Regions from separate parts of the Homo sapiens genome. Here all the other regions are reported to be linked to region 3. The links are microRNA targets in miRTarBase. Many come from high-throughput screens and were not tested one by one. Region 3 holds a microRNA gene; each other region holds the end of a gene's coding sequence.
What was found. The annotated mature microRNA hsa-miR-876-5p reads UGGAUUUCUUUGUGAAUCACCA and lies in region 3 at 1,321-1,342, shown strand. An mRNA with a match to its seed (bases 2 to 7 or 8) in the 3' UTR can be bound and repressed. Matches are read on the target gene's strand: a 7mer-m8 pairs with bases 2 to 8, a 7mer-A1 pairs with bases 2 to 7 and ends in A, and an 8mer does both.

Region 1: the mRNA of ZNF707 is a reported target of hsa-miR-876-5p. The part of its 3' UTR that is shown has no 7-base or 8-base seed match.
Region 2: miRTarBase lists MAT2A as a target of hsa-miR-876-5p. Seed matches in the 3' UTR shown: 7mer-m8 at 2,524-2,530.
Region 4: miRTarBase lists TMX2 as a target of hsa-miR-876-5p. Seed matches in the 3' UTR shown: 7mer-m8 at 3,129-3,135.
Region 5: miRTarBase lists RPS16 as a target of hsa-miR-876-5p. The part of its 3' UTR that is shown has no 7-base or 8-base seed match.

What each region holds. Positions count from the first base shown.
Region 1 is chr8:143,693,848-143,698,123 of GRCh38, forward strand. It overlaps ZNF707 (zinc finger protein 707), which reads left to right. Exons shown (of 6, transcript NM_001100598.2): 6 at 1-1,538. The coding sequence ends at 683. It overlaps LINC02878 (long intergenic non-protein coding RNA 2878), which reads left to right and starts at 3,268. Exons shown (of 2, transcript NR_015445.1): 1 at 3,268-3,794; 2 at 4,092-4,276.
Region 2 is chr2:85,543,088-85,547,363 of GRCh38, reverse strand. It overlaps MAT2A (methionine adenosyltransferase 2A), which reads right to left. Exons shown (of 9, transcript NM_005911.6): 9 at 2,083-3,694. The coding sequence ends at 3,592. It overlaps GGCX (gamma-glutamyl carboxylase), which reads left to right. Exons shown (of 15, transcript NM_000821.7): 15 at 1-2,644. Among named protein-coding and RNA genes, the nearest start is that of MAT2A, 6.1 kb to the right of the region's middle.
Region 3 is chr9:28,860,741-28,865,016 of GRCh38, reverse strand. It overlaps MIR876 (microRNA 876), which reads left to right and starts at 1,311; the gene lies at 1,311-1,391. All of the region lies in intron 2 of LINGO2 (leucine rich repeat and Ig domain containing 2), which reads left to right.
Region 4 is chr11:57,739,742-57,744,017 of GRCh38, reverse strand. TMX2 (thioredoxin related transmembrane protein 2) reads right to left here. Exons shown (of 8, transcript NM_015959.4): 8 at 3,045-3,919. The coding sequence ends at 3,773. It overlaps SELENOH (selenoprotein H), which reads right to left and starts at 2,527. Exons shown (of 4, transcript NM_170746.4): 1 at 2,301-2,527; 2 at 2,064-2,209; 3 at 1,771-1,901; 4 at 468-1,155. The coding sequence starts at 2,422. The coding sequence ends at 1,801. It overlaps BTBD18 (BTB domain containing 18), which reads left to right. Exons shown (of 3, transcript NM_001145101.3): 3 at 1-504. All of the region lies in intron 2 of TMX2-CTNND1 (TMX2-CTNND1 readthrough (NMD candidate)), which reads right to left. RefSeq lists enhancers at 2,016-2,185, 2,336-2,385, 2,706-2,825.
Region 5 is chr19:39,429,789-39,434,064 of GRCh38, reverse strand. It overlaps RPS16 (ribosomal protein S16), which reads left to right. Exons shown (of 5, transcript NM_001020.6): 3 at 304-400; 4 at 496-543; 5 at 647-928. The coding sequence ends at 792. Among named protein-coding and RNA genes, the nearest start is that of RPS16, 4.0 kb to the left of the region's middle. RefSeq lists an enhancer at 2,502-2,621.

The DNA.
Region 1 (4,276 bases), not on the chromosome of region 3:
CCACGGCTTTCCCGTGTCAGGTGCTCACGCAGCGTTGTGGGCGGCGGCCGGGCCGCAGAGAGCGCCGGAAGCAGCGCGCAGTAGAGCTGTCATTCATCTGCGGCACGTGCGGGAAGGCGCTCAGCTGCCACAGCCGGCTGCTCGCTCACCAGACGGTGCACACGGGAACCAAGGCCTTCGAGTGCCCCGAGTGCGGCCAGACCTTCCGGTGGGCTTCAAACCTGCAGCGCCACCAGAAGAACCACACGCGCGAGAAGCCCTTCTGCTGCGAGGCCTGCGGGCAGGCGTTCAGCCTGAAGGACCGCCTGGCTCAGCACCGCAAGGTCCACACCGAGCACAGGCCCTACTCGTGTGGCGACTGTGGGAAAGCCTTCAAGCAGAAGTCCAACCTTCTCAGACACCAGCTGGTGCACACCGGGGAGCGGCCGTTCTACTGCGCGGACTGCGGCAAAGCCTTCCGGACCAAGGAGAACCTCAGCCACCACCAGAGGGTCCACAGCGGGGAGAAGCCCTACACCTGTGCCGAGTGCGGCAAGTCCTTCCGGTGGCCCAAGGGCTTCAGCATCCACCGGAGGCTGCACCTGACGAAGAGGTTCTACGAGTGCGGCCACTGTGGGAAAGGCTTCCGTCACCTGGGGTTCTTCACGCGGCATCAGAGGACTCACAGGCACGGGGAGGTGTAGGGGCGCCCGAAGAGTGGGGTGCTGCGCCTCTGCGGGAGTACTGGGTCCTGAGGGAGAGCTGCAGTGAGAAGTTGCTCTTCAGCCTGGAAAATCAACCTGAATTCAGAGAAGCCTTCTTAGTCCTCAGAGCTCCCCAGTCCCCCGAGAAGTTTACTGGGAAAACTGCCAGGTGGGAGAAGCAGAGCCATGGGTACGCCGGAGATGGCGGGGGCTCTGGAGATGGCGGGGGCTGCGCCCCGGCGCCGGGCATCCTGGGGATGTGCTGAGAGTGTGCGCGACCCCGGAGCCACGTGCCAGGCCGGGCTCAGAGGCGGAGAAGCCTGCCTGGTGCCCACAGCCGTCTGGCTCAGGGACTCCACCCTGGCCCCGAGTCGCCGTCTGCTGGGCCTTTCCTTCCTGGCTCTGCACCCCATGCTGGCTGCCCGGTCTGGCTTCCCTTCTTGTCTCTGTCTTGGGCGAGGCAGCTGTGAGCATTGCACAGAGGCAAAGACCCTCCTGCAGCCTCTGCGCTGGGCCGTAGAAACAAGAGCCTTTGTAATACTGAACCTCATTCAAGGATTAGGAGTGGTGGTTAGGTCAGGGCCACCCCCAGTGCTGCAGGAACGGCCTCCACCCAGCTCTGTTGGTCAGAGCCTGGGTCATGCACCTGGAGTTGGGAGATCAAGTTGGGTCTCAGGGCAGTGAGGTGGCCATATCCACCACATCGCATTTCGTGGGGGAAGAGGTGACCTCTTTGTTTTAAACTTAAGGTGTCTGCTTATCCAGCCAGAAATAAAAATCTGCCAGTGGTGTTCCCAAGGGAAGACCCCCGTGGGAATGGGTCGGGACACTGCCGTGTTTCAGGTTAGCCAATTATTTTTGCTTTTGCCTGTTTTTCTTTAAGAATTGCAGCCAGGCCAGGCGTGGTGGCTCACGCCTGAAATCCCAGCTACTCGGGAGGCTGAGGCAGGAGAATCGTTTGAATCCGGGAGGTGGAGGTTGTGGTGAGCCAAGGTTGCGCCATTGCACTCCAGCCTGGGCAGTAAGAGTGAAACTCCGTCTCAAAAAAAAAATTCCAGCCAACAGATGCATATGTAATGTTGGAATCAGAAACGAGTTTACAAGAAATAGGGGGATGAGGAGAAGGTTGAACACACCGAGAGGAAGCCCTGAGCCAGATCCGGCTGGAGATGCCACCAGACGGCGACGTTTCTGTGGGAAGACGGGCACGCAGAAAGGCCGAGGGGGCTGTGTGTGACCCTGGTAGGAGCAAACCGAGTGCGAAGTCACTTTTGAGACAATCATGGAAATGTGGGCACGGGCCGTGAGTCGGGTGGGTAGGCCGTGAGTCGGGTGGATGGACTGAGTCGGGTGGGTGGGCCGTGAGTCGGGTGGATGGACTGAGTCGGGTGGGTGGGCCGTGAGTCGGGTGGATGGACTGAGTCGGGTGGGTGGGCCGTGAGTCGGGTGGATGGACTGAGTCGGGTGGGTGGGCCGTGAGTCGGGTGGATGGACTGAGTCGGGTGGGTGGGCCGTGAGTCGGGTGGATGGACTGAGTCGGGTGGGTGGGCCGTGAGTCGGGTGGATGGACTGAGTCGGGTGGGTGGGCCGTGAGTCGGGTGGATGGACTGAGTCGTGTGGGTGGCCGTGAGTCGGGTGGGTGGGCTGTGAGTCGGGTGGGTGGCCGTGAGTTGCGTGGTGGGCCGTGAGTTGCGTGGGTGGGCCGTGAGTCGGGTGGGTGGGCCGTGAGTCGGGTGGGGGTGCGGAATTGGCTGCTAGCGGTGATGGTGACACAGGGTTACGGAGGAATCCTCACTCAGATGCATTTGGACGTCTTTGTGGGGAAATGACGTGGCGCCTGGGATGTACTTTACGATTCTAATAAAGAGGAGAAAGACACAACAGTATTGGCTGAATGTTGACAGCTGTTGAAGCCGGGAGGTTGGTGTGCTTAAAAGTTCCCCAAATCTTTTATTTGCAGCATGAGTATGAGTTTCTTCGTGCTCACGGAAGATTGTAGAGAGCAGCTGTCGGTCATGGAGTCACAGGGCTGCCTTACCAGGACACCACCGGCAGCCCCACAGACAACACAGGTTTATTCTCTCCAGCTCTGCAGGCTGGAAGTCCGAGGTAGAGGTGCCAACAGGGTCCGTTTCCGGCGAGCGCCTCCTGGTTCAGAGGCATCCTCATGTCAGGAGGGGCTTTGGTGTCACCTTTTCCTTGTGAGGGCCCGGATCCCATGACCCCTATCACCCCATCGAAGCCAAATCACCTCCCAGAGACCTCCTCATACCATCACGTCGGGCCTAGGGCTTCCACATGGGAATTTCAGAGTGACCATTCAGCCCGTAGCAGAAGCTCCTCTGGGTCTGTCCTGGCCCACAGACCCTGTGTAGGAAAAGCACTTGCCCCTGCGGGGCAGGCCCTGGCAGAGCCCGGTGAGGCAGTGAGGGCCCTGCAGGATAAGTGGAAATCTCCCCAGGGGGGATATGGGGGTGCCTTTCTCTTACAGAGTCCAGGCTGGTAAAAGCGCATGTGTGTTTCGTGTCTGGTTTGTCCCCTGCCCAGCGGGCGCCGTTGGAAGGGCCTTCAGGTGCTTGAGCACAGGTGGGGACGGAGCAGCTGGTGTCTCGGCAGTAGATGCGGCGGATCATAAGGACTTGGGTTTTGAGCGCCCTGCAGGAAGCCACTGGCCGCGTCCAGGGTCACCTGTGCCTGGTCGTTAGTCCCTCACAATGCTGTCACTTTGTGACGCTCTTGTGCAGGATTAAATGTGAACAGCAGAGACGTGGGTGATGCGCTGCCTCGTCAGATGATGGTCAGTTGTCCAAGCGGGCTGCCTTGCTCTTGGTGGCCTCATCATCCAGGGCTCACACACTGGATGGTTGGGCCACAGTCGCGGTACCCCCCGGGCTGCAGGCTTTCCACCCTGCTTAGCAGGGCTCCAGGGCTCCGGGTAGAGCAGGGGGTCCCTCCCTTGGCACTTCCCCAGGGAGGAGCACGACCGTGCTCAGCTGCGGTCAGGCTGCTGCTCTTAGTTGTCTTTCCTTCTAACACTCAGGCTTCCCTTCCTGCCTCCTGGGTCGCTGAAGAAGGTCAGGTCCACAGAAAAGGCCTGGGGAGAGAATGGTGGTGAGGAGCCCATGGGGGTGTGAGGGGCCGGGAGGCTCTGCATCTTGCCCTGTTGGCCTCCTCACCACCCAGGCGGGGGTGGGGTGACAGAAGGGGCTCACAGCAGGTGTCCCGTAAGGAGCATCTTCCTTCCTGGGGCCAGCAGCCGTCACTCCCTGTGAGCCTGTAGAGCCGAGTTTTCTCTGCATTTATCTTGGGCAGAGAATGCATGAAGCTACTTCGCGGCCAGAATGGGTGCACAGCAGGGTCCGTTGACAGCCATGCCTGTGACCTAGCCTTCCACCCCTCTGTCTCCAGGGGACACTTGCCTGGCCTTTGTGTTAGCGCTCAGCACACATGTGTCCAGTGTAAAGTCCACCAAGATTAGCAGGGCATGGTAGCTGCCGCCTGTAATCCCAGCTTCTCAGGAGTCTGAGGCAGGAGAATTGCTTGAACCTGGGAGGCGGAGGTTGTAGTGAGCCAAGATCGTGCCACTGCACTCC
Region 2 (4,276 bases), not on the chromosome of region 3:
GCAACTGTAGCCATTCTAAAAATGGGCTATCAATGTCCTTTTAGCCAAAAGACTTTAGTATACATCCTCCTCATTCTACCCTCAGGATTTGGATCTTTGCCCCTGATGGGTATCCATCCCCTTTGAAACTTTAGAAAGGCAGGTTATATACAGAATGTTCAACCTAAAGACATTTCCTTAAGTCATACTTTCATGCTTTCTAAACTATAATCACCCTTATCATCCCCTGCTGTTATGCTTTCCCTCTGCTCCCTGTGGCCTAATGTTCCTCCACCACCTTATTAACCTTCAGGATACTTTTCCCCTAGGCTGGGCAGGACAACACTATCCCCTTGGTCCACAAGCTCCCTCAAGGTTGGGGAATCTTTGTTTACTTAGCAAATACTGAACATAACCTTAAAGCGGTTACTTTTGAAAACTTCTCATGCTATTCTACCAACTTGGAGGCACCTATCCATGCTCATTCCCCTAATGTAGCCAATATGGTTATCTGCAATGTATTGGCATCTAAAAACTCCCTTATGAAACTGCCAGACTTGTTCTGGAACATTTCAATTACATGCAAAATTCAGGTTCTCAAGTTGGAACAAGTCTAATTGACACACCTGCATAGGTTTTAACCTTGCCCTCCCCCTACTTCCCAACAGATTTCCAAGTTTTTTGAGAAGGAACCTTGCTCTGGCCCAGGCTGGAGTGCAATGGCGCCATCTCGGCTCACTGCAACCTCTGCCTCCTGGGTTCAAGTGATTCTCCAGCCTCCTGAGTAGCTGGGATTACAAGCACCTGCCACCACACCCAGCTTTTTTGTATTTTTGGTAGAGACGGGGTTTCAGTTTGCCAGGCTGGTATCAAACCGTGACCTCAGGTGATCCACCCGCATTAGCCTCCCAAAGTGCTGGGATTACAGGTGTAAGCTACCATACCCAGATTTCCACGGCTTTTTTTTTAAGTCTCACTCTGTTACCCTGGCCGGAGTGTGGTGGCACGATTTCAGCTCACTGCAAGCTCCACCTCCCGGGTTCACGCCATTCTCCTGCCTCGGCCTCCTGAGTAGCTGGGACTACAGGTGCCTGGCTAACTTTTTTATATTTTTAGTAGAGACAGGGTTTCACTGTGTTAGCCAGGATGGTCTCGTGATCTGCATGCCTTGGCCTCCCAAAGTGCTAGGATTATAGGCTCACGCCTATATTACTATATAGTGGCCTATATTACAGGCCACTCCGCCTGGCCTCCAAATTTCCAAGTTTTTAAGTCTCCATGCAAACAGGCATAAGCAAGCACTCCTTGGCTCTACATTTGCAGGACAAGCTGGACCACCATTCAGATGTTGGTAGAAATGTAATCCAAGTGGCTATTCTCTATGCATGTAGCTCCTAGGTTCAAGAGCAGTGTGGTCTGCGGATTTTCTACACAACCTGCCATAAATGAAATTTAAGCCTTTGGAAATTTATAGCATTTTCAGCTAATTTGCATTATTTATCTCTGCAAGATATTGACTAGAAATCACGTTTCAGAACTTCTCAGATGAAAACATCATACAACCCTTAAAACTAAGCTCATAATTTAAAAATGTATGCAGATTAATAGGCTTAAATTGCCAGGACTTTAGATAGACATTACCACTTCCAGGTTAATACTTTTAGCGGTTTTTATGCCTTCAATGGTTTGAAGCCCTCAACCTTAGTTGAAAACTTAAAAATGGCATTGAATGGCTGCTGCAATAAGGACACATGAATTTTGGCTTAAGTGGACTAGGAGGACTAAATCTTGCTTAGGCTTTTAAAAAATGCCCACCCACTGGGTCTAGGGATTGAGGTTATTTTCCTGAATTATGGCTAATTATGGATTACAATTCAAGGTTAAAGATACACATATAGTATTCTCAGGTTATTCATATGATAGCATTTTTTAAGAGCCAAAGTCTCAGTCACCCAGGCTGGAGTGCAGTGGCTTGATAATGGTTCGCTACAGCCTCCAACTTCTATGTTAAAGTGATCCTCCTACCTCAGCCTTTCAAAGTGTTGGGATTATAGGCACGTACCTATGGCCCCAAAGCACTTTAACAAATGAGTAACAGACACAGTTAAGGTAGAACCTAGCATTTTATTTAGATCTTCATTAAACTGTTGGAATTGAGAACCAGACATACGTAATAAACCTCCAAAAATAGATCCTGAAAGGCACTTTCTGCTTAGGGCAAGCAGTCATGGAATAAGCATGTAAACAAGCTGGCTTCTCTGTACCACACCAGCCAAGTCAGCTTTCTCCATGGCCAGCCGCACCAGCTCTGCCCTCCCTTCTGTTAACACCAGCCAGACCCCCTGTAGGTCTAACCCAAGGTTTTTCTGTAGGACACCTTGGCCTACCTGGGAATGCTGGAAACATGTTGTTAAAGGAATCATGGTGTTGAGAGAAAAAAAAAAAATCTTTTAAAAGCTGCCATCTGAGGTGATGGCTTCTCTGTACTTACGCCATACCCCAGAATACAATAAATAAGCAATTAGAAAACGTTCAAGTATGAAGGGATTTCCTCCTCCCCGCCAAAAGCACTGCTCTCTGAAGGAAGCTGGTTTCTCTGTAGCTACACCAGCTGTTCAGAAAGCTCATTGGACCTGGTTTTGAAAATAAAACAAAGTTAAAACCCTGGGAGGAGTTATTGTGCAGTGTGGAGTACTCAGGCTTTCTTATAAAGAAAAAAAAAAGTTATCTGGTACCAAAGTGTGCAACCTACAGACCCTCAGGTACTGCCCTGTGACTTCTCTGTATGACATCACAAGGCTGCCAAGTGCCTGTTTTTCTAGAACTAGGAGTTGGTGAGGTTTGGCTAGTGCTGAAACCATGCATAGGATTGGTTTACTAAATTAAAACCTTATTACGTACGTCCTCCAAAAGACAGCTGAAAGTGGAGAGATTTTGATTTGGTGCTGTTAGAGGTGGCAATTAAGAGCATAAGCACCAGGGAGATGGTTTAATGGTAACTGCCTTTTTTGATGTCAGGCTGGAGCTCCAACTGGGAACTTGCGTTACATGCAAGATTGATTGGATAGGGAACACTCCCTGACAAAGAGCTACATAATTAGAAATGGATCAAGTTACAGGGAGGATAAGGGGAAGGCTTCACATTCATAATAGAGCTCAAGACATTACAAATTCATGCTGACAGGGCTGTGGCATTGCCAGACAGAGGCTATAAGTGGAACTACAAGTACTTTACGTGCACATCACAAGGACATTTTCAGCATCTGGTGGGGAAAGTCAATGCAATTATGACTTTGGAGCGTTGGGTGATAGGGCACAAAGGTTCAATTTCAAAGCATTATTTACTACAGTGTTGTTTCTAGGCAGTTACATGGATCACCTATGCTCACTAAATTCATTATAATGGTGAACAAAACACCTAGGGACAGAATAGCAAGCCCAACTTACAGTCCCCCACAAAAGCTAAAATTCATGTCATTGACTAGAGTGACTGCAACTGGTCAGGAGCTGAAAGAGGACAGGAAAATTTAGGAAGGAGGGCCCTTTCCCTCAGAGCTTGAAGGCTTCTCTGTAGCCTACGCCAACAAGTCTGGGGAAAAAAGGCTAACACTTTCAATATTTAAGCTTTTTGGGCACTTCCCATGGGAAGCTGTCCCTACCAAAGTGGCCATAGGCTGCAGTCCTCTGATAAATTGGCTTCTTCAGATCCAGATCCCTGGAATATACAAGTCCGTAACTTAATATGTAGCATTAAATTAAAATAAAGCAAAACAATCAGCAAGACTCATTTTCAAGAGCTCTGGCAAATGAGTTCTCTGGGATATGCTAGGAAAAAAATTTGTGGCAAAAGTGTTACTTCCCTGGTGTCCAAACTCCTTGCACAGTCCTTATTAGTAACTATAGTTGTTTTTCCGTCCCTGGCTCAACAAATACGAAAACTTGTCATTATTCTGAGAAATTTCAATTGTCAAAAAGCTCACCTGAGATCACACAATACTTACCAAGGTCCCGCCGCCCACACCCTACCATGGTTTTTACATTGCAACAAACCTTGAGCAACCCACTTTATCTCTATTTTCTTAACACCCTTAAGTAGAAGAGCACAAAGCTCAAATATCAAATCTGGAACATTCTCTAGAGTGGTTAGCCTAAGCCATGGAGCACCGTAATTTTAAATTTCTCAAATAACTAAGTCTTCACTAAGGCAGCAGTTCAAAACTGTTCCAGGAATTAAAATATATTCCCATTTGAGGAGTCTTCCTTCACACCTTCACCTCCTCAGCCTTAAGTATATACA
Region 3 (4,276 bases):
CAACGCTCTTAGCACTGAATTAAGTGGCCTCTCCATGTCTCCATTAGCCCTATATGGAAACTTTTCATAACACCTATTACTGCTTTTTTCAAATTCTTGTTTTCTCCTTTGTATTTCTTGAAACCTGGAGTTTTTATATCCCCAGCATCTAACCAAGACTATGCCTGGCACATGATAAGCGCAAAACAAATATTTTTTTTTCATACATACATATTTTCTACAAATTTTTTATTTAAATATTTTTAATTATTCAGATACTTAGCAAGTTTGGCTTGGTTGTTATATGTGTGGTTGGTGGAGGTGAGTAGGGTATTCCTGAGCAGTGACCTACACTGACAGTGGTGAACTGCCTAGGACTCTTATGTTCATGAGCTTCTATAAAGCAAACTTTTAATTAATGTTGACATTTGATGGTTACTTTGAAAAATGTTGAAATTTTCAAAAGCATGAATTACTTGATTGATATTATGCTTACTAGGCTGGGAAGATTTATAGATTCTTTTCATTAATTATAAATGAAACCTTTCTTTTTGCTCTTTAGATAAAAGTTAAAAGGTGGGATTCTGGTTATTTTGCAAAGGAGAGTAACTTTATTGTTTGTTTTTCATTTTTTATTGGTGTGGTTTTCTTTCAGAGTTGAACCTAATATGTATAATATAGAATTTAGTTTTATAAACATTCTTGGACTTCAGCAGTCATATGAAAAAATACTTACTTGGACAAATATCAGAGGAAAAAACACTCAGGTTAAACTCATTTAATGATTGCCTTTGAACTTTTATTTTAAGTTCAGGGGTACAAGGGCAGATTTGTAACATTGGTAAGCTTGTGTCATAGGATATGAGATTATATGAGTATAAAGTGGGAAGCTAAGTAACTGAGGATATCTTTAGAACAAATTATCCCAGCAACACTTATATACTGTGATATGGATGTGAGAATTACATATAGTTTTATTATTTATTCTACTCCCTACTCCTGACATCTATATTAATAACCATGCCCTTTTATTTTGATGAGCAGAACCCTGTTTTTTCATCCTGCATAATGTCATGCTAGTTATTGTATTAGGAATTCTTTTAAATGAAATTTACTGGTATATAATATAGAAAGCATGCATTTATTTTTAAGTTTTATTTACTTAAAATAAATGTTCAGTGTTTCTTGTGTGTTTCAGCTAAAAGAGGGTGGTGCAAAACTGAGCATATTCTTCAATTGATTGTGAACTAGATGGAAATACTTCCTCAACTTTTGGTGGCCAAAGGGTACTGTTTTTGTTGGTTCATAGGTACCAGGCTTTACACAAACTGTGAAGTGCTGTGGATTTCTTTGTGAATCACCATATCTAAGCTAATGTGGTGGTGGTTTACAAAGTAATTCATAGTGCTTCACAGGTGCTTCTGCAGTTGATCTACACCATGAAGCCTAAGATTCCTTTACTGAGCCATTGAGAACAAGCCACTTTGTATTACAAGACACACAAAGTCAAGAGATCCCTGGTAAATATACTCTAGAATCCTTCTATTTGGTGCTTAGTGTTAACAGTGATCAAACCTGTGTCAAACACACCAGAAATTATGGTTACTTTACCTAAATATACATGTTTTACATAGTTGCTGTCTCTGTCTCTACTGTTCTTTTTTTGAAAAGTAATTTGTAATATTTCTTGGTTAAAAAAACATGATACATCAGAAACATTAATTGAATCAGCCCCTTAAATCCTAAGCATACCATTTTGAAGTTTAAATATCATATTTTATTTGGATTATTATGCCCAATTAATATATTAATTAAATAGTTTGGTAAATGATCAGGGGCTTGAAGACATCATTGTTATGCAGTACTTTTGTAAAAAGCAACATTTTATTTTAACAAGAAAAACATTGGTGTGGGCAAAAAAAATCACCTTAACATACCAAATTGTACATTTTGATGGCATATATTAAAATTAGGTATTCACTGGGCATTCATTTTCATTTACTCTTCTGGAAACAGTATCTATAGTCCTATTCTATGACAGAAAAGATTGTGTAACCTTTACAAGGTCACAAAAGCCTAATTGTTGACTAGTAATTGCTTATTAAAATAAATGGAACTTTGTGGTCATTTCTGTCATCAGGATTACCAAGAATGGATTATCCCTGACCATAAATCAAACAATTGATGATTAACTATTTTAATAACTGATTAAGCTTTCAAATAGTCATTTTGGTTTTACCGTTTTTTATTTATTTCCAAGGCTAGAGCGTAGGTCTTATTTAAGTTCAATGGTATGACTATAAGACTGTCAGAACTATGAAAACTTCTGACCTTTAATTTCTTAAGTGACACATCTGGACACCTAAGTGACAGTGGTACAGGCTTCTGAAATTACTTTTGCATCATCATTGAATATATCTATTGTATTCATTATGACTTTATTTTGTCCTGTTATGTTTCATTCCTTAGAAGTGGATTATGCATATGCTCTATAAGGTTGGGTGACTTTAAATAAATTAGCATACTAATTTTTAAGCCCTTCTGTTAGATAAAAGAAAATCAGTATATTATTTTTCAACATATAAATGACCAAAAGAATGAATCAATATGTATACTTTTAACCTTAAAATATATGTGTATAAATATGATTGGAAATGCTTTACCTAAGAAATATCTTGCTACTCTAATTTAATTTGAACTATGATACAAACATGTTATTCTTATTTCCTAGCCTTTAATTCTTCAGTATTTATTATTACCATTCCTTGTCTGATACATATGTAACCTTATTTTTCATAGGACTGTATGTTCATAAGCAAAATCCACAGAGCTCTGGGATTTCCTGTGCTTTTGTTGGGTGCTACTTTGCTGATGTGTGAGGACAGGTGGGAAAAGAGTCTGAGAAGACAGGTTTCTGAAATTAATTTGTCCTAGAGCTCTTTGATTTTTCTGTTTTATGAAAGGGGGCACCTGTAAAATTTCCTTTGAGCCGAAGCTTATGTTTTTAATGATAATATGTAGAACTGCTGATATATGAATTTAGAAGGAAGTCACAATATTTTTTCTTAAGATAATTTTTAGTTTACGGGAGATATAATGGGATGTGCTAATGGACTAATAAGCATATCTCATAATCATGTACCTATATCCTTGTATCCTAATTTTAATCCCAACTTCTTTATATTTATTTCACTACCGCTTTTTTTATTTTTAAGATAAATACAGGTTTACAAACAATGAATTAATTTTTAGTGTAGGTTTTGTGTTTTTTGGTAAGAGACAAAAAACATATGTTGCCCTGGCTGGGGTGCAGTGGTGCAATCATAGCTCACTTCAGCCTTGATTTCCTGGGTTCAAGCAATCATCCCACTTCAGTCTCCTGAGGAGCTGGGACTACAGTGCCTGCCACCATGCCCAGCTAATTTATTTTATTTTGTTTTATTTTATTTTATTTTATTTTTGTAGCAACACAATCTCACTAGATACTCATGCTTGAGTGCAGTTATGAGTAGAACATGTGTTCAAAGTGAACCTGAGGTCTCCTGTTATGGACAAGGTAATATCAAGCTTCCCTAATTTCTGTGAGAACTATATGAGAATAGATATGTTTAAATGAATGTTATCTGTGAGAATTTTCTAGAGAACAGAACCAACAAGATTTTTGTGTGTATATATATATTAAATATGTATATATATTAATAATATATATTATATATAGTATATTATATAAAATATATAATATATAAAATATATAATATATAAATATTATATATTTTATATAATATTGTATAAAAAATATATATTATATATTTATATAATATTATATAAAAAATATATAATATATAAAATATATTAATATAAATATATTTTATATATTTATATAATATAAATTATATAAAAATTTATATAATTTATATTATATAAATATATTTTATATATTTATATAATTTATATTATATATTTATATATTAATAATACATATTATACATTTATATATTAATAATATGTATTATATAATATATTATATTATATATTAATAAATATAATATATTATAGATTTATATATTAATGATATATAATATATTATATATATTATTTTTTACCTTTTTTTATTTATAAGGCTAGAGCTTAAGTCTTATTTAACTTCAATGCTATGACCACAAGACTGTCAGAACTCTGAAAACTTCTGACCTTTAGTTTCTTAAGTGACACATTTGTACAACTAAGTGACAGTGATACAGACTTCGGAAATTGCTTTTGCATCATCATTGACTATATCTATTGTATTCATTTTGAC
Region 4 (4,276 bases), not on the chromosome of region 3:
CTCTTTGTAGGTCCCTTCCTCCCTTCCCTAAGCCTCAGAAGCCAGGCAGAAGCCAAGGGTACCATAGATAGAAAATTATGAACTTGTACCATCTTATTTGTAATCTATTTTCCGGTTAGTGACAACTGAAACAAACTGTGTGCTCCCCAATTCTGGTGGGTCATAGGTAACAGCCAAGGCCAGATCTCTCAGGTCATAAGGCATCCAGTCACTGGTAATTTAGGAAAAGCTGAGAAAGAACACCCTCCTCTGTGGTGGGGTATTGTTTAAGAAAATGTTCCAGAGGAAGGTGTGAAGCAGTGTTGGGTGGAATACTAAGTGGGTGGGAGTGATGGATGCTGTCCAGCACCCAACGTGGGGCTTATTCACTGCCAGTATTAGGAAGTCTAGCTAAAACCTCTGCAGGGGCCAAGAAGATGTACTTCCATCATTACTTCCAAAAAGTAAGTTGAAAAAGATACAGTTGCTTTTTTAAAAAATAAATTATTTACTTTGCTCCCATAATTTTTACAAGTATTTCTCATGTTTTACCAGAGATCATAAAAGTTGCAGGTCAGGCCAGGTGCGGTGGCTCATCATGCCTGTAACCCCAGCACTTTGGGAGGTCAAGGCAGGCATATCACTTGAGGTCAGGAGTTTGAGACCAGCCTGGCCAACATGGTGAAACCCCGCCTTTACTAAAAATAAAAATAAAAAAATTAGCCAGGCGTGGTGGTGTGCACCTGTGATCCCAGCTACTCAGGAGACTGAGGCAGGAGTATCGCTTGAACCTGGGAGACAATGGTTGCAGTGAGCCGAGATAGCACCACTATACTCCAGCATGGGTGACAAAGTGAGACTCTGGCTCTTAAAAAAAAATTTTTTTTTAAAAGTTCCAGGTCACATGGCTATCTTGGGCTATGAAAAACACAAGGACTACCAACTCCACAAGGCTGGCTTTGTCCATCCCTTAAGATTAAGTTTTACTCTATTACTCAAATACTTTATTTCAACTTTTATTAAACCAAATCCAGTAACTTTTACAATGCCTTACTAGAGGGTTGCCTCATAACTGAACCTTCATTTCTGGCAGGGAAGAAACCATGGCTTCAGGATCATGACTGAAGTTTGGCCATGTTCCATCATTAATGTTCCAACATCACCAGGGACACAAAGCTGCAAAAATGAGAAGGGAAATAAGGTTAGAGAAAGGATCTGGGCAATCTTAAGGACTGAGGAAGACATGTTCCCCAACCCTTGAACTCACAAACCCTGAAGCTCAAGGATTGCATCCTTCCTCCAAATCTCACTCAACATAATAAGTGCAGAACAACATGCCAAAGCACTGTATGAAGCACTAGGGACAAAGACAAGGTCAAAATCCTTGTAACCAAATTTAATGGTATTGTAATGCAGTGTTAACACAGGACAGTAACAGAACACCCAAGAACCAAACAGAAGAGGGTAGGGATAAGCATAAATGAAGTAACATGAAATAAACTTCCAAATGGAAAACTTGTCCATACCCCCAGGGCAAGTCAACTACAGTCTCCCAAAGGACATAAATTCCACTTAGGGCACACTAGACAGAAAACAATATTGTGTCTTTTTTTTGTTTTTTGTTTTCAAATAGGGTCTCCCTGTGTTGGCCATCCACTCCTGCCTCGACCTCCCAGAGTGCTGGGATTGCAGGCGTGAGCTACCCACGCCAGGTGGGTACTTGTAGCCACACCAAGATCAATGCCTTCTCTTCCTCAACAGCGGTCGCGCCCCCCACTTCCCATTTCAAACCTCAGCATGAGGGCTTCTACCCAAATCTCCCTACGACAGGTACTTCTTCAACTCTTCCACCACCTCTTGAGGCTCAGGGAATTTGAGTTTGCGTGGGGGCCCCTTCTTAATCCCAGTCCAGAGCTCCGCACCTGAAAGGCCAGAATGAAGCGAAGTTACAATACTTCGGAACCCACGAGCACGTCTCTGAAGTCATGAGACTGCCGTGGTTTCTAAGAATAGCGCTTCCTGTCTTCGGAACCCACGTCCCTTTCACCCACGTCCCTCTCCCCCACATCCAGGTCCCCACTTACTGCTGCCGTCCGGGCGCAGCAGCGTCACCTCGAAGCTGCCCCTCCGGGGCTTCGTCGGGTTCACCTTTACTGGAAGCTCTGGGGCCTCCAGGCGCAGCGCCTGGCTCAGGGCCGCGGCGTTGCGCCCATAGACGCGTCAGCTAGTGCTAGGGAGAGACGGAGAGGTTAGAAACCGGGGCCCCTGGCCCCCCCCGGCGCCACTGTTCCCTCTCTCCCGTTACTCTCCAGGCCCCTCACCAATGCTCGATAACAACGGTCGCCTCCTCCATTCCCTCCCCGCCGTTCGCCAGCTTCTCTCGCTTCTCGGCTACGGCGACCACCGCGGCCTCAGCCTTACGCTTCCTCCCGCGGGGAGCCATGGCGCCTAGAGCCCGGCCGAGAATGCAGCGGGACTGGTGGGTGGGGGGCGGAGACGCGACCACTGAGCGGAAACTGGGCAACGAAGAGCGCAGCCCGGAAGCTCTGCTCCTACAGCGGAAACCTCTCTCAAAGGAAGGGAAAGCTTGGCCCGCAGCACCCACGTGGCCTGGAGGCGGACCTTGGGGCACAACCACTTTGCAAGCAGGGAGCGGGAAGGTGCGGGAAGCGCCTGACGGAACCACCCATCGCTTCGGGTGGAGGGGACAGGGGACGCTGGGATGGTGAACACAGCAGGAAGGGGCGGAGACTAGGTCCGACTGCTAGCCTCGCTTCGCGCAATCTTTTCTGTACCTTTGCATGGCGCTAAATGTTGTGTGCCACCATCTGCCGCCAAACTCTCCTCCCTGGCAACCGCAGGCCAATCCCAGAGTAAACCCACCACCTAACAACATGTGGCCGCTATTCTAGATTTATGGAAACTAGACTTCTCCAACTCTTGCCAGTCCTGGGGATCAATGCCCGGCATTTGGTGAAACCAAATAGGATGGCCTTTGCCCTTAAGATGGGCAATTCCTCTGCAGTTGTCAGGCTTTTCTAATACAGAAACACACAAACGCGCAATCAAAAGGAAATCCCAATCTTTTTATTACGGAAAGCCATCAACTGGGTGTGGGGAGTATGTCAGAGGGTTAGTGAAAGTCCAGGGGATTTCTCCTCCAAGTCCTACCACACAAAGGAAAGTCTCAAGCCTCTATTCACCCCTTCTCAATCCCCACAAAATAGGGGGTTGTTCAATATTGTCTTCAATGATAAAAACTTTGTGGTTAAAGGTTTCTCCTTAGGACTAGCGACAAAGTTAGGCTTATACTTTTAATGAAGACCATAAACGAAGCCAGAAGGGCTTAAGGAAGCAAGAGTCCTTGGGGGAAAATTCTTAGCGTTCTATACCCCAGCATCTTACCTTAGGGTTAAATCTAGGTCTAACCAAGCTGTGCAGGTCAACTAAGAAGGAATGATGAAACCACAGAGTTTCATGGAGAAACCATGGAGATGTCTGAATAGCTGATAAGCAGTTAACACACTGACCCAAGCTTGGAGGGAAACCATTTCCCCCTCCGTCCTATGAGATCTCTTTCTTGCTCCAGTGAAACAGTTGGCCACAGCATGGCAGGCCTTCCTGTAGGGTGCCTGACAATTCCCTAGATGCCTCTTTAAAATCAGAAGCTGCATGCTGCCCCACCCAGTCACAGCCAAAGGGAAAACATAAATAAAAGGCTGCAGCCTCAGGCTTGTGGTTATGGAAAGAGCCTGGAATTGACAGGAGAGGAAGCACTGCCAAAGTGAGGATCTTATTTATCCTTCTTGTTTTCCCCATCTGACACTGTGGTGGGGGTTGAAGCCACAGGCTGCTCCTCAGGGATATTGTCTCCAGCCTTTGATAGTTTCTTGGCCCGCTGGTATAGCTCATTTAAGTTAAATTCTCGGATCACATTCTCCTGCACAAAAGAGATGCACACGTCAGGATCTGGGTTGGAAGGGAGAGTAAAGAGCCTGGGAAGTAAGAGGTATTTTACACAAAGTCTGGGAAAGGAAGGAGTAAGCAAAGGACAAAAATCTTCCCTAACCTTCCTCTTTTTTAGGTACCCAGAAAAGTCAACTAATAGTTAAATACCCATTATGTGCCAATCACCGTGCCAAGAATTATACCTAAATTATTTAATGTAATCTGCAAAACAACCCTGTAAGCCAGGGGTTATTACCTCCAATTAACTGACAGGGAACCTAACACCTACAGACAATAGGTGCAGTGGCCTTCGAGACAGAATCTTTTTTTTTTTTTCCTGATGGAGTCT
Region 5 (4,276 bases), not on the chromosome of region 3:
TAAGAACCAGTCTTAGAGGTAGGGTGTCTGAGGTCCAGTGAGGGACACAAGTAGGAGGGAGCCCAGATCTTGTTCCCTTTACCTTGCCTATATTTCTTAACACCACTTCAGCAGTCTCATATCTGGCTTTTTTGACTTTCCTCTTCTCTGGGTCTGTAGAGGGCCTTGGAGTGACACCCTGACCCCCATCCACTAGTACTTGAAGGCCAGTGGTGGCAGAAGCCACAGAAACAAGAAGCCCAGTGAGATGGCTAAGCTGCCCAGCATGTAACTTAAATCCCTGTTCATTCCCCATTCCTTTAGCTGCTGGAGCCAGTTCTGCTTCTCGGCAAGGAGCGATTTGCTGGTGTAGACATCCGTGTCCGTGTAAAGGGTGGTGGTCACGTGGCCCAGATTTATGGTGAGTCCCAGGAACTGGGCGCATGGAGGAGGTGGCTCTGGGAGGGAGGCCTTCACAGCGCTCCTGTACCCTTTAATTGTGTGTCTTTCTCACAGCTATCCGTCAGTCCATCTCCAAAGCCCTGGTGGCCTATTACCAGAAATGTGAGTGAGCATGGGTCCTTCCCATGAGGTAGATGGGTGTGTGGGGATCAAGTCAAGGACTCTGTGTGATTATCTAAATCCTCGTCCCTGCTCTTCTTGCCAGATGTGGATGAGGCTTCCAAGAAGGAGATCAAAGACATCCTCATCCAGTATGACCGGACCCTGCTGGTAGCTGACCCTCGTCGCTGCGAGTCCAAAAAGTTTGGAGGCCCTGGTGCCCGCGCTCGCTACCAGAAATCCTACCGATAAGCCCATCGTGACTCAAAACTCACTTGTATAATAAACAGTTTTTGAGGGATTTTAAAGTTTCAAGAACTGTGTGTGGCCTTATGTGTTGGTATTGGATGTTTAACCAGACAGAAATCAGTAAACATCCTGGACCTATTGCCAGTCTGGATTTTGACCCTCCCCAGAAGTGGTCGCGCTGGGCTTGGTGTGGGTGAGTGGAAGCAGAAGGCAGGGGGTCTCTGTCTCTACACCTCCAGTAGAGTCCAGTGTGCAGGCAAAGCTGAGATGGCAGTCGTTTGGGGCCATTAGTGGCTGCAGACCTTGGCGGATATATGGCTCATCCTTGTGGATGTCTATTTTTTTCAAGCCCAGCCTCCCAAATAGCTTGGATTACAGGTACCCACCACCACGCCATGCTAATTTTGTATTTTTAGTATCGATGGGTTTCACTGTGTTGGTCAGGCTGGTCTCAAACTCCTGACCTCAAGTGATCCGCCTTCCCGGGCCTCCCAAAGTGCTGGGATTACAGGCGAGAGCCACCACCCCCAGCTGAATTTTTGTTTTTGTAGAGACAGGTCTCACTATGTTGCCCAGGCGTGGTCTCCTGACCTCAGGCAATCCTCCTGCCTCATCTTCCCAATGTGTCCAGGTTACAGGTGTGAGCTACCATGCCTAGCCAATAATCTTTAATACAAAGAAAACAAGGAGAGTCGGGCACGGTGGCTCACGACTGTAATCCCATCACTCTGAGAGGCCAAGGCTGGTGGATTACAAGGTCAGGAGTTAAAGATCAGCCTGGCCAAGATGGTGAAACCTCATCTCTATTAAAAGTACAAAAATTAGGTATGGTGGCAGGCGCCTGTAATCCAGCTACTTGGGAGGCTGAAGGAAAGAATTGCTTGAACAGGCGCCTGCCACACCCAGCTAATTTTTTTTTTTTTAAGTAGAGACAGGGTTTCAACATGTTGGCAAGGTTGGTCTTGAAATCCTGACCTCAAGTGATCACCCGACTCTGCCTCCTAAAGCGCTGGGATTATAGGCGTGAGCCACTGCACCCAGCCTAATTTTTGTATTTTTAGTAGAGATGGGGTTTCACCATGTTGGCAAGGCTGGTCTTGAACTCCTAACCTCAAGTGATCCTCCTGCCACAGCCTCCCAAAGTGCTGGGATTACAGGCATGAGCCACCATGCCGAGCCCAAAGTGGCATTTTGGACAGGTAACCGGGCTGTGGAAGACCCCAGGTTCTTTTTTTTTCTTTTTCTTTTTTTTGAGACAGAGTTTTGCTCTTGTATCCCTGGCTGGAGTGCAATGGCGTGATCTCGGCTCACCGCAACCTCCGCCTCCCGGGTTCAAGCAATTCTCCTGTCTCAGCCTCCCGAGTAGCTGGGATTACAGGCGCCTGCCACCTTGCCCAGCTAATTGTTCTATTTTTAGTAGAGACGGTTTCACCACGTTGGCCAGGCTGGTCTGGAACTCCTGACCTCAGGTAATCTACCCGCCATGGCCTCCCAAAGTGCTGGGATTACAAGTGTGAGCCGCCACACCTGCCCCCCCCCCCCCGCCTTTTTTTTTTTTGGAGACGGAGTCTTGCTCTGTCACCCAGGCTGGAGTGTAGCTGCACAATCTCAGCTCACTGCAACCTCCGCCTTCCGGGTTCAAGCAATTCTGCCTCAGCCTCCTGAGTAGCTGGGACTACAGGCAAGTGCCACCACACCTGACTGATTTTTGTATTTTTAGTAGAGACGTGGGTTTCACTATGTTATCCAGGCTGATCTTGAACTCCTGACCTCAGGTAGATCCCCCTGCCTTGGCCTCTCGAAGTGCTGGGATTAACAGGCGTGAGCCACCGCGCCCGACCTAGAGCCCAGGTTCTTGACTACTAGTTTAGGTTGTCACAGATCTGCTCAAGAGGCCCCATCTCTACCCTGTGGCCCCTCAACATGAGGAGCTAAGGAGTCAGGGTGGCCGCTTGTGGGAAAAGCACAAGAGGCTGTGGGACTCAAGCGGTGCCTGACAGCCTGGAGGAGTCAGGTGGACTCCTTGGGGGAGAGGACATGGGAACCAGGGTCTGCTGGCCGGTAGGAAGAGTAGCCAGGGAGACCATGTCTGTGATGAGTTGTTTTCGGGTGTCTGTGGCCTCAACTTGCTCATTCACTTTCCTTGAACACCTGTGCCGGGCCATGTGCTCGTCATGGGGCACTGAGTGACCACAGCCCTCTTCCCCCTCCCAAGGAGTCACAAATGACGCAAGGGTTGCTGCCGGTGCTGGAAGAGGAGTTGGGCTTCAAAGCACAGTGCATCCTCAGCGTTTTGTATAGGTGCTTGGAAACGGACTTAAGCAAAACAAGCAGATCCTGTAATAACAGTCCTTTAAACAAACTGGTTTCCTTATACGTCGTTTCGCTTAAGGTCACGGTTTCCCAGAACCTATTGATGACGTTAAGTGAGGACTTCGTTGAGTGGCTAATGACTCATAGGAAGCGAGTGAACTTCATTGTTTGGGGAGCGCAGAGATTTCTACTTCCTAGTTCCAGCCTCTGCAGCCAATAGGGAAGTCCCGCACCTAAATGCTCAGGGGGAATGTTTTACAACTTGAGATTTTCTGTCCACTTGCCCACTTTCTATGTATCTACCCTAGTTAATACAGTAGCCAGTGCTCAGAAGCCATGTATGGCTACCAAGCGGGGCTGCACATATTAGAACATTTCCGTCATCAAGGAAGGTTATATGGGACAGCACTGACACAGGATACATAAAATGAGTCGGGGGCTGGGCCCAGTGGCTCACGCCTGTAATCCCAGCACTTTGGGAGGCCAAGGCAGGTGGATGGCTTGAGGTCAGGAGTTCGAGACCAGCCTTGCCAGCATGGCGAAACCTGGTCTCTACTAAAAATACAAAAAAAAAAAAAAAGGCTGGGCATGGTGGCGGGTGCCTGTCGTCCCAGCTGTTTGGGAGGCTGAGGCAGGAGAATGGCTTGAACCCGGGAGGTGGAGGTTGCAGTGAGCTGAGAGATTGCACCACTGTACTCTGGCCTGGACGACAGAGCGAGACTCCGCCTCAAAAAAAAAAAAAAAAAAAAGCCAGGCGTGGTGGCTCACATCTGTAATCGCAGCACTTTGGGAGGCCAAGGCGGGTGGATCACCTGAGGTCAGGAGTTGGAGACCAGCCTGACCAATATGGTGAAACCCCGTCTTTACTAAAAATACAAAAACTATCTGGGTGTGGTGGCGTGTGCCTGTAGTCCCAGCTACTCAGGAGGCTGAGACAGGAAAATTGCTTGAACCCTGGAGGTAGAGGTTGCAGTGAGCTGAGACCTTGCCGCTGCACTCCAACCTGAGCCACAGAGCAAGGGTCCGTCTCAAAAAAGAAAAAAGGCCAGGCACGGTGGCTCATGCCTGTAATCCCAGCACTTTAGGAGGCCGAGGTGGGTGGATCACGAGGTCTGGAGTTTGAGACCAGCCTGGCCAACATGGTGAAACCCTGTTTCTACCAAAAATACAAAAA